Linked DNA regions of Homo sapiens: region 1 is linked to region 2. The links come from fine-mapping of genetic effects on gene expression. Tissue or cell type: whole blood. Region 2 holds a variant in brackets; the other region holds the start of a gene. All regions are shown on one strand. Distances are between the middles of the regions. Region 1 holds the start of TLR5 (toll like receptor 5). Region 2 overlaps TLR5 (toll like receptor 5).

Region 1 (4,388 bases), 30 kb after region 2:
CAGCCAGAATTCCCGGAAGGCAGGAATTTGAATTGGCTCTGGGCAGCAAGTGCCTTTCATTATTCTGAGCTTCATATATCCTCATGCTTCCTTTCCTAGGCCTGGCCAAGCCCTTGATGGTCATTCTTAAGTCAAGCTGAACACCAGCTGGCTCTGTGAAGCTCTCTCTTCCTTTCCCAGTCAGTCTGCACTAGCTGTCTTCTTTGAGCTAGCAGATGCTGCCACATACTTTCGCACTTAATTGCGCTCTAATTGTTTCACAGGTGCTGGTTTTGTCTTCCTACTTAGACCTAGGAGCTTTTGGACAGCAGGGACTATGCCTCAAACTTGGGTTTGTCCCAGAGAGCGGAAGACACTATACGCTGTTGCTCTCACATTAAGGGACCAAGGCTGGGAATCACTTAAGCTTCAGAAATCTGATTGAAGCTTTGGATCTGCCTTCTGCATTCTTTTCCACAATGTTAAGAGTGAAACAAACACATCTGGATGCAGTAACTGGACATTCCAGTGCTGTCTGCTGTTTAAGTCTGTTAGTATACAGAGACAAATAAACAGGAGAGTTTTGCTTTCAACACTCAGCAGAGCCAAACTTCCTGATGCACGGGAATGAACAACGGAGGCACTGTTCTGGAAACACCGTCCTCCAGAGAGGCGCTCCCTCCTCAGAAACAACACCGAAAACCTGGCATGGCTGGTTTTGCATTCAGACAATGGCACCTACATGCTTTTTGCTTTGCTCAGAGCTGTAAATATCCAAAGAGGTGATCCTCTGCCATCATTTTGGAAGGAAGAATCAGTCAGACTGATAATTAGGGTCATACGCACAGGCATGGTCATGCTGATTGTTGAAATTTAGATTATTTTTGGCCCAGCACAGTGGCTCACACCTGTAATGCCAGCACTGTGGGAGGCCAAGACAGGCGGATCACCTGAGGTCAGGAGTTTGAGATCAGCCCGACCAACATGGTGAAACCCCATTTCTACTAAAAATACAAAAATTAGACAGGCGTAGTGGTGGGTACCTGTAATCCCAGCTACTTGGGAGGCTGAGGCAAGAGAATCGCTTGAACCCTGGAGGCAGTGGTTGCAGTCAGCCGAGATTGTGTCACTGCAGTCCAGCCTGGGCGGCAGAGTGAGACTGTCTCAAAAAAAAAATTACATATATATATATATATATATATATATATATATATATATAGAGAGAGAGAGAGAGAGAGAGAGAGAGAGAGAGAAAGAGAGAGAGAGAGATTATTTTTGTACTGCTTAGTAATTAGCTTTAGCACGGTCTCTCCTCTGGGACCTCCCCTGGAATTTCCCCACAATCCAGTAACTGAATAATTAGCATCCAGCCCCACAGAACTTCTCCCAGGGCCCTGCTCCAGGGCTTCCCTTCTGACTGGCTGTGCATGGCACACTGGGAATTGTTTTCTGCCCACAAGAACAAGGGTGAACTGAGTCAAGGAGTCCAAGAGATCTTGGACGCACTTCTCAGAATTCGGAGGGGCTGGGTAAATGCAGGAGAAAATTGATGAAACCACATTGGCCCTGCAAGAGCCTGACTGCTCCTGCACGGTAGCTACCCCTAGCATTAGCGGGGAGTCACCAATGCCTCTTCCAGGCACTGAGCAAGAGGGCGGCATTACAGATGCACTTGCCGTCCAAACAGATCATCTCATTGACTAGGTGACTGCTCAGCAACAGTATCTGAAGGACACTAGGGTTACTCTGCTTGTTTGCAGTTCACGGTGCTGGACGGATGTGTTCCCAACACTAGGTAACAACACCGCTCTCCCTCCTCCGGGAGAAAGCCGCAGCCGTCGATTCCCACCCAACAGGGCCTCAGCGCCTTCCCAGGGCAGCACCCTCACTCCTGCAACCACCAATCACCCAAGCCACAGCATGGTCCCAGACCCACCCTCGCCCCTTAGGAAATGGCTTTCCAATTGTGTTTTCACAGGAGCATGGCCACTGGGCAATGATCTTCACAGGCAGGCTTTTTTTTCCCCCTCTCAACATAAAGGCCAGCAATATTTACCACGGAGTCTTGGCCAGTGTGCACTGCCTGGTGCTGTGGGGTGGGGTGTTTAGGGCCTTTTGTTGAGCAGCTCAGTGACTTTCTGGGATTTCCATGGCCCTGCTGGAGATGGCCCTCTGTCTCCCTTTTCCAAGGAAGAAAGTGACTGGGGACAAGCCACCTGCCTCTTCCACAGGGTGGGGGCGAGAGTGACAGCGAGACAGCACAAGAAGGACCCGCTCTGTTTCAAAGCGAGGATGTGAGTGACTTCGTCTGTGCCGAGGTCTCTTCGTCTCCAACCTGCCGGGCACAGGGCACCCACATGACACGCTCACCCCGTCCCTGGGCCGAGGGACCCCACGTCTCGCGGGTGCCGCGGGGCAGAGAGCGCCGCCTAGTGAGGCGGCGCGAGTTGGACATAGACTGGAAAATAGACCCGGACAGCCCGGGAGGAGGGCGGAGAGGAGTCCGACCTCCGCAGGCAGCCGCGTCCCCGCCCCGCGCTGCCTACGACTTAGGGCCCCCGGCCCATCCCCTGCCGCTGCAGGGCGCTCACCTCTGGGACGCCTCCCCGCGCCGCCTGCGCCACGGTTGGCTCCTCCCGGACGCAAAAGCGGCGCCCTCGCTCGGGCTCCTGAAAACCTCGCGGCCCCGCCCACGGAAGGGCCCGCCCACCTGCCAGGCCACGCCCCCGTCTCGGCCACGCCGCAGCTCAGGGTTTTCTCTGAGGGCTGTGAGAGGCTAGGCCCGGGGAGAGGAGGCAGAGGTTATGCTCCGGTCTCTGCAGACTTCCACAGTGTCTATCGAGATCACACATGCCAGCATTGCCCCCTCCCATCCTCTCCTCATCGTACGGAGGAGGAAACCCAGGCCGAAGACCTGAAGTGTCCAAAAGCACAGCCAGGCCAAAGAGAAGCACCATCCCATGTTCTCCCACTCCCACTCCGGTGCTTCTTCAGGTAGGCTAAACTTCAGGCTAAAATGTGAAGATCACAGTGACACATTCCTGTCAGCAGAATCTGCTGCATATGTTTGGGAGCTGGGGTGTTTGGAAGCTCCGATTTTGTGTGGAGGACCCAAGAGAGAAGACAGACCCTTCCTGTCCTATAAGAACAGTGCTCCTCCTGCCCTAACTTCTCTTTTCCTTTTTCTAACTCCCTCTGCCTATGGGGTTTGCTGAAACTTTCAGGAAAAGGGACGTGTCAAAAGAAAGAAATGGACACCCCAGAGGCCGTGCAACCACAGGGTTAAAAGGAGGTAGCCTTATGAGAAAGCGGTGGAGTGGCTTTCTGGGGTGAAACCCAGTTCAAGGACAGAAATAGCACTGTCTTGAGTTAAGACTGGTGGTGGGGGAAGCCTGGGGGTGGGGCGCAGACTGCAGGCGGAGGAGCTCCCTGCCACCTGCCACTTGGGGTGTAATCACAGAGCAGCTGACACTCCCCACTCACTGCCTGGAGGAGCTTGGCGGTGGGATCGGGCAAGGCGGGAAAGATAGGTGTAAAACAAAGCCTGGCACTTAATTACAGTGCAAAGATCTCATTATAGAGTCTTCTCAGCTCCCCTCCTCGGCTGGCAGCTTGAAGCCTGAGTGACAAATTGCCTAGGTAGGTCTCCAAGGGCTGTATGTAGAGGGATGAAACCACCTCCCTGCCCACCCGAACCCCACTGTGGGGGCTGTGGAGAGGGAGGGGATGTTCACACTCTGGCATATGCAGGGGGCAGTGGGGAAGTCTGTAAGGGCACCTAGAAAGCAGTAAGAGCTGGGAGCCACAGTGGCCCTAGCCTGACATAAATAACACCTTGCTGGGGCAAGCCCAGTGTTCCCTCTTTTGGTAGTGGAACCGAGGGCAAGGTTGGGGACAGCTTGACGTGTGGCACTGTTTACTCTGCATCATAGGTGGATGCTGCAAGACCAGCAGGGGCCTGGCTTATCATGCAACTTTGTGAATATGTGGGAGAGAGGAGCCTTCCAGACGGTGTTATGGCCTCCCAGGAACTCCCAAAGCCCCCTCCCCAGGGTGGCATCTGGTTTTGGACACTGGTTTCTGTCACTGAGCTCCAGGGACTCATGTCACACCTGGAAGAACTTTTAGATTCTGTCTGCCTGGCCATGTCTTCCAACAGCCGAGATCATTGAGGAAGATGACAACTTCTACCTGAACAGCCAGGACAGCTTAGGGTCTTCTCACATGTGGACCTTGAAATGCACTTCTGTTATTTTTCTCCAGTATATTCAGGGGAAGGGGGCTGGTGATCAAAGCTTTTGCTGAGCAGGAACAGAAGGGTTGTCACTTGCTTTTTTCTCCACTGAAACCTAGAGTAGCAAACACATCCTCGGGGTGCTATGTGATGCTCACAGGCAGAGCCCTGCCAG
Region 2 (4,388 bases):
CTGCTCACAAGACAAACGATCTTTCTACTGTTCCAGATGGCATCCTGGATATTGGCAATGCGGTTTTCTCCTGGGACAAAGTCTCTTTCTTCAAAGCACAGGTTGAATCTGTTTTGGTCACTGTATTGAGTGTCCAGGTGTTTGAGCAAAGCATTCTGCACCCATGTGAAGTCTTTGCTGCTGAAGCACAAATAGGCATCATATTTGTACATATCAGGTTCTGTGCCCTGGGGATGGTCCTTGAACACCAGTCTCTGGGCTGTCTTATAACAGATAAAACAGAAGCCCCGGAACTTTGTGACTGTGAGGATGGTCATGAGGAACAGAGTCAGAGTGACAGTGCATACAATGAAAAGGGAGAACTTTAGGGACTTTAAGACTTCCTCTTCATCACAACCTTCCGTGGAAAGAGAGAAGAGGGAAACCCCAGAGAACGAGTCAGGGTACACACAATATATGTCTGCAGGAGGCCCAGCTATAGTGACATTGGTGTGATTAAGCCAATTGATAAAAGTGCTAAGTTCACATTCACAAATGAACTTGTTATGAGTTATATCCAAGACACTAAGTGATACAAATACATCAGGATTAGGAGCTAGGAGCTGGTTCCTGGATATGTCCAGGATCTCTAAATTAGCAGGTAAATCATTGTGAGAAAGAACTGTCAGCCTGTTGGAGTTGAGGCTTAGTCCCCTTAATGCAGTCAGATGGCTAAATACTCCTGGTGGAAGGGAATTAAGATAGTTATGATTCAAATACAGAACTTGAAGATGAGAAAGTCCCTCAAAAACATCCCAACAGAGCTCAGTTTCCCAGGCAAGTTGCAACATATTTTCTCCAAGGAAAAGCTGTTCTAAGCTGGGATTCTCTGAAGGGGTTTGATCTCCACTACAGGAGGAGAAGCGATTTTGATTTAAAATGAGAATCTGGAGATGAGGTACCCGTAGGAGAAAGTAGAGAATATCTAGATTTTCTAGCCTGTTTTCTGATAAGTGGATGAGGTTCGCTGTAAGGTTGATCTTTGGCAAAGTCACTAGTTTATTGCCACTCAAGAAGATATCGGGTATGCTTGGAATAAAATGAATGGTTGTAAGAGCATTGTCTCGGAGATCCAAGGTCTGTAATTTTTCCAGGAATTTGAATGTTTGGTCTTGAATTATTGCAATGTGATTCTTTTGCAAATCAATGTAGGCTACCTTAGGTAGTCCATAGAAATTCGAACTGTAAAGTTCCCCCAGAAGGTTATATGACAAATTGAGAACTTGGAGGTTGTCAAGTCCGTAAAATGCTTCATCTGCAATCTTATTTATCTTGTTGTAGGCAAGGTTCAGAACCTTCAAATCCTTGAGTGTCTCAAAGACTCGTGAGTTCAGGGAGAAGACAAACCCATGTGAAAGATCCAGGTGTCTCACTGAACTTCTGGCCAGGCCAGCAAATGTGTTCTGGTCAGGATCTTTGATGTTATGGAAGCCAAACCCGGCACCCATGATGTGGTGGGCAAGAATCAAAGAGAAGGCCTGGCTTTTGCTGATGGCATTGCTAAAGTTTCCTGTGATGTCCACTGTCCAGCCATTTCCAGAAACATCTAGTATCTCCAGCACCATGTTTCTGAATGGGTTCATACATTTTCCCCAGTCCACTGAGACTCTGCTATACAAGCTATTAGCTGCGAGGCTAAAAAAGGAGAGCGTTTTCCCTTGTAGGGGCTCGAGCTCATGTTCACATACAAGGAATATTTGGTTGGAGGAAAAATCTATGGACTTTAAGGAATTCAACTTCCCAAATGAAGGATGAAGGTAAAGGCTACGAATCTGATTTTTGGATAGATCCAAGCGAGTTAAAGCCTTTAAATTTCTGAAATAACCATCTTTCAATACAGCATCAGAGAGACCACAGAAATACAGTCTAAGTTCAAACAGATGGAACAGTCCCTGAAAAGCATCTGGATGCAAGAAGTATATCTTACTACTTCCCAGGTCCAAGATTCTAAGGTTGGGCAGGTTTCTGAAGGCCTCCTTGTCAATAGTCAAGGGGGTATACTGGCTCCCGAGCTCCAGCAGCTGCAGCTGTTCCAGAAAGGGGAAGGATGAAGCAGTGACTGTCCTGATATAGTTGAAGCTCAGCAGGAGCCTCTCAGTGGTGTTGAGGACCTGGGGGACCTGGGTGAGGTTGCAGAAACGATAAAAGGCTATTCGGCCATCAAAGGAGCAGGAAGGAATTCCAAACACAGGACCGGCCATGAGCACCACTCCTAGGAGAAGGTCCAGGTGGTCTCCCATGATCCTATGGAGAAGAAGGGAGAATGAAAACACAGGCATTTAAGCTCGAGGTATTGCACTGGGGTCTTCAGATCTTGGGGGTATTCTCTATGATGTGCCTGCTCCCTTTGACCCCTTCATTCCTCTGACTCCACAGACGTGGCTGTTGGCAGATACAGACAAAACTATTCTTACTCTATTTCTGTTTTTTTTGAGACAGGGTCTTGCTCTGTTGCCCAGGCTGGAGTGCAGTGGCATGATCACAGCTCACTGCCACCTCCGCCTCCCGG[G/A]TTCAAGCCATCCTTCCATCTCAGCCTCCTGATTAGCTGGAACTACAGGCACGTGCCACTGTACCCGGCTAATTTTTGTATTTTTAGTAGAAATGGGGTTTCACCATGTTGCCCAGGCTGGTCTCCAACTTGTGGGCTCAAGTGACCTGCCTGCCTCAACCTCCCAAAGTGTTGGGATTACAGATGTGAGTCACCACACCTGGCCTATTCTTGCTCTCTATCAAACACTTACGTTGAATTTTCTGTATACTAGGCACTATTCTAGGTACTTAAAAAACATTTCACTTAATCTTTTCTTTTAAAAAAATTTTATTTATTATTCTAAATTAAAATAAAAATATAGAGATGGGGGTCTCGCTTTGTTGCCCATGCTGGTCTTCAACTCCTGAGCTCAAGCGATCCTCCTACCTTGGCCTCCCAACATGCTGGGATTACAGGCATGAGCCACTGCACCCTGCCTTCACTTAATCCTTATAATAACTCTATGTTTCTTCATTCATTCGTTTGTTTATTCATTCATGATTTGCTGAGGGGAGGTGGAGAAAACAGCAGGAAGAGACACAATGTTGCTTCACTTCAGCCGGGTACCCCGTTCCTAGCCCACAGAAAGCTCGGCTGATGAGTGGAAAATAAATTCACTGTTTTTCTCCCTTAATTTGTCTAGGCTACTGGCCCATCTCCATTTATCCGACCTTACTCCACACACAGTCCATCCCATCATGCAGAAATTGGGCACTTTCTGGCACCCCACAAAGAGCCAGATGTGATCGGTTTAATAAAAGTGTGATAAGTGCCTAGTGCTCGCCTGGCAGCTGTGTGATTGTGTGAGTGTACGACAATAAACAGAGACTGGCCCACTTGCTTAAGTCCTGTCGGGGAGCTAACCATCTGTCTGGGTTGAGTGTTTTTTTCATGGGTGCAGCAGAAATGGTGCTCAATGAACGTGTCTGGCTTATGTTCCAAGTATTGTGCTGGGTGCTATGAAGAGAAAACACACAAGGACCCCACCTGCAGAGAGCTTGGTGTCTATTATTTGCACAGCACCTCCATCTTTGGTGCCTACTATGCATTCCATTTGCTTTAAATGTAATGAAAGGCCTCTGTTGGAAGGTAAAGGAAGAGTTATATAGCTCAGAGGGCAGGAGAATGAGAGGAAAAATAAATGAAAGAAATAGGAAGAAGGCAATGGTTTATAAAGAGCATGAATCCCATGAGACACCATCACTGGCAAAAGTGTCAACACCAGGAGAGATTAAGCCTGGAGCAGTCACGGTGCTGGAGGTGGGCTAGCTCTGACGAGGTTGTGCTTTGTGCTGGGGCTGATGTATGGTGGGGTTTCCACAGAAACTGGGAGGCTGTGGCACACAAGCTACAGCAAATCAGAAGTAGGCATGGATGCCTGGATTGACTCAAAGTTTCAAACTCAGGCATCTAATAATCGTTAGGAAAAACTTGGTGAGAATGTTTATCACCACTCTGAATTTCTCCCCCATCTCAGTAAATGGCTTCACCATATCCATCCAGAGTCTCAGGGTGACAACACAGCAGAGTCTTTTAAACATCATTCTTTTAAACATCCCCCCAATATCCAATCCCTCAGCAAGTCCTGTTGGTGCCACCTCCCAAGCCTATCCACTGCCCTACTGTAAGCCGCCGCCATCTCTTTGCATGGGCCAGACTGGAGACTCCTCACTGGCTCTCTTATTTCTGGTCTTGCTTTCATTTTCCAGCCAGCAGCCAGCATGTTCTTTCAAAAACATAATCTGGTTTATATCATTCCTCTTTGTACAGGGCCCTTCCCTTCCTTCCTGCTGTACTTGGAATAAAATCCTGTGAGTAC

The links.
Region 1: TLR5 starts here. The variant in region 2 is fine-mapped to the expression of TLR5 in whole blood (INTERVAL, PIP 0.97).

What each region holds. Positions count from the first base shown.
Region 1 is chr1:223,140,626-223,145,013 of GRCh38, forward strand. It overlaps TLR5 (toll like receptor 5), which reads right to left and starts at 2,623. Exons shown (of 6, transcript NM_003268.6): 1 at 2,571-2,623; 2 at 1,023-1,138. It overlaps LOC124904522 (a long non-coding RNA gene), which reads left to right and starts at 2,730. Exons shown (of 2, transcript XR_007066895.1): 1 at 2,730-2,973. RefSeq lists a silencer at 2,412-2,781.
Region 2 is chr1:223,110,753-223,115,140 of GRCh38, forward strand. TLR5 (toll like receptor 5) reads right to left here. Exons shown (of 6, transcript NM_003268.6): 6 at 1-2,283. The coding sequence starts at 2,279. Among named protein-coding and RNA genes, the nearest start is that of TLR5, 30 kb to the right of the region's middle. The variant G/A (reference allele first, on the strand shown) is at 2,549.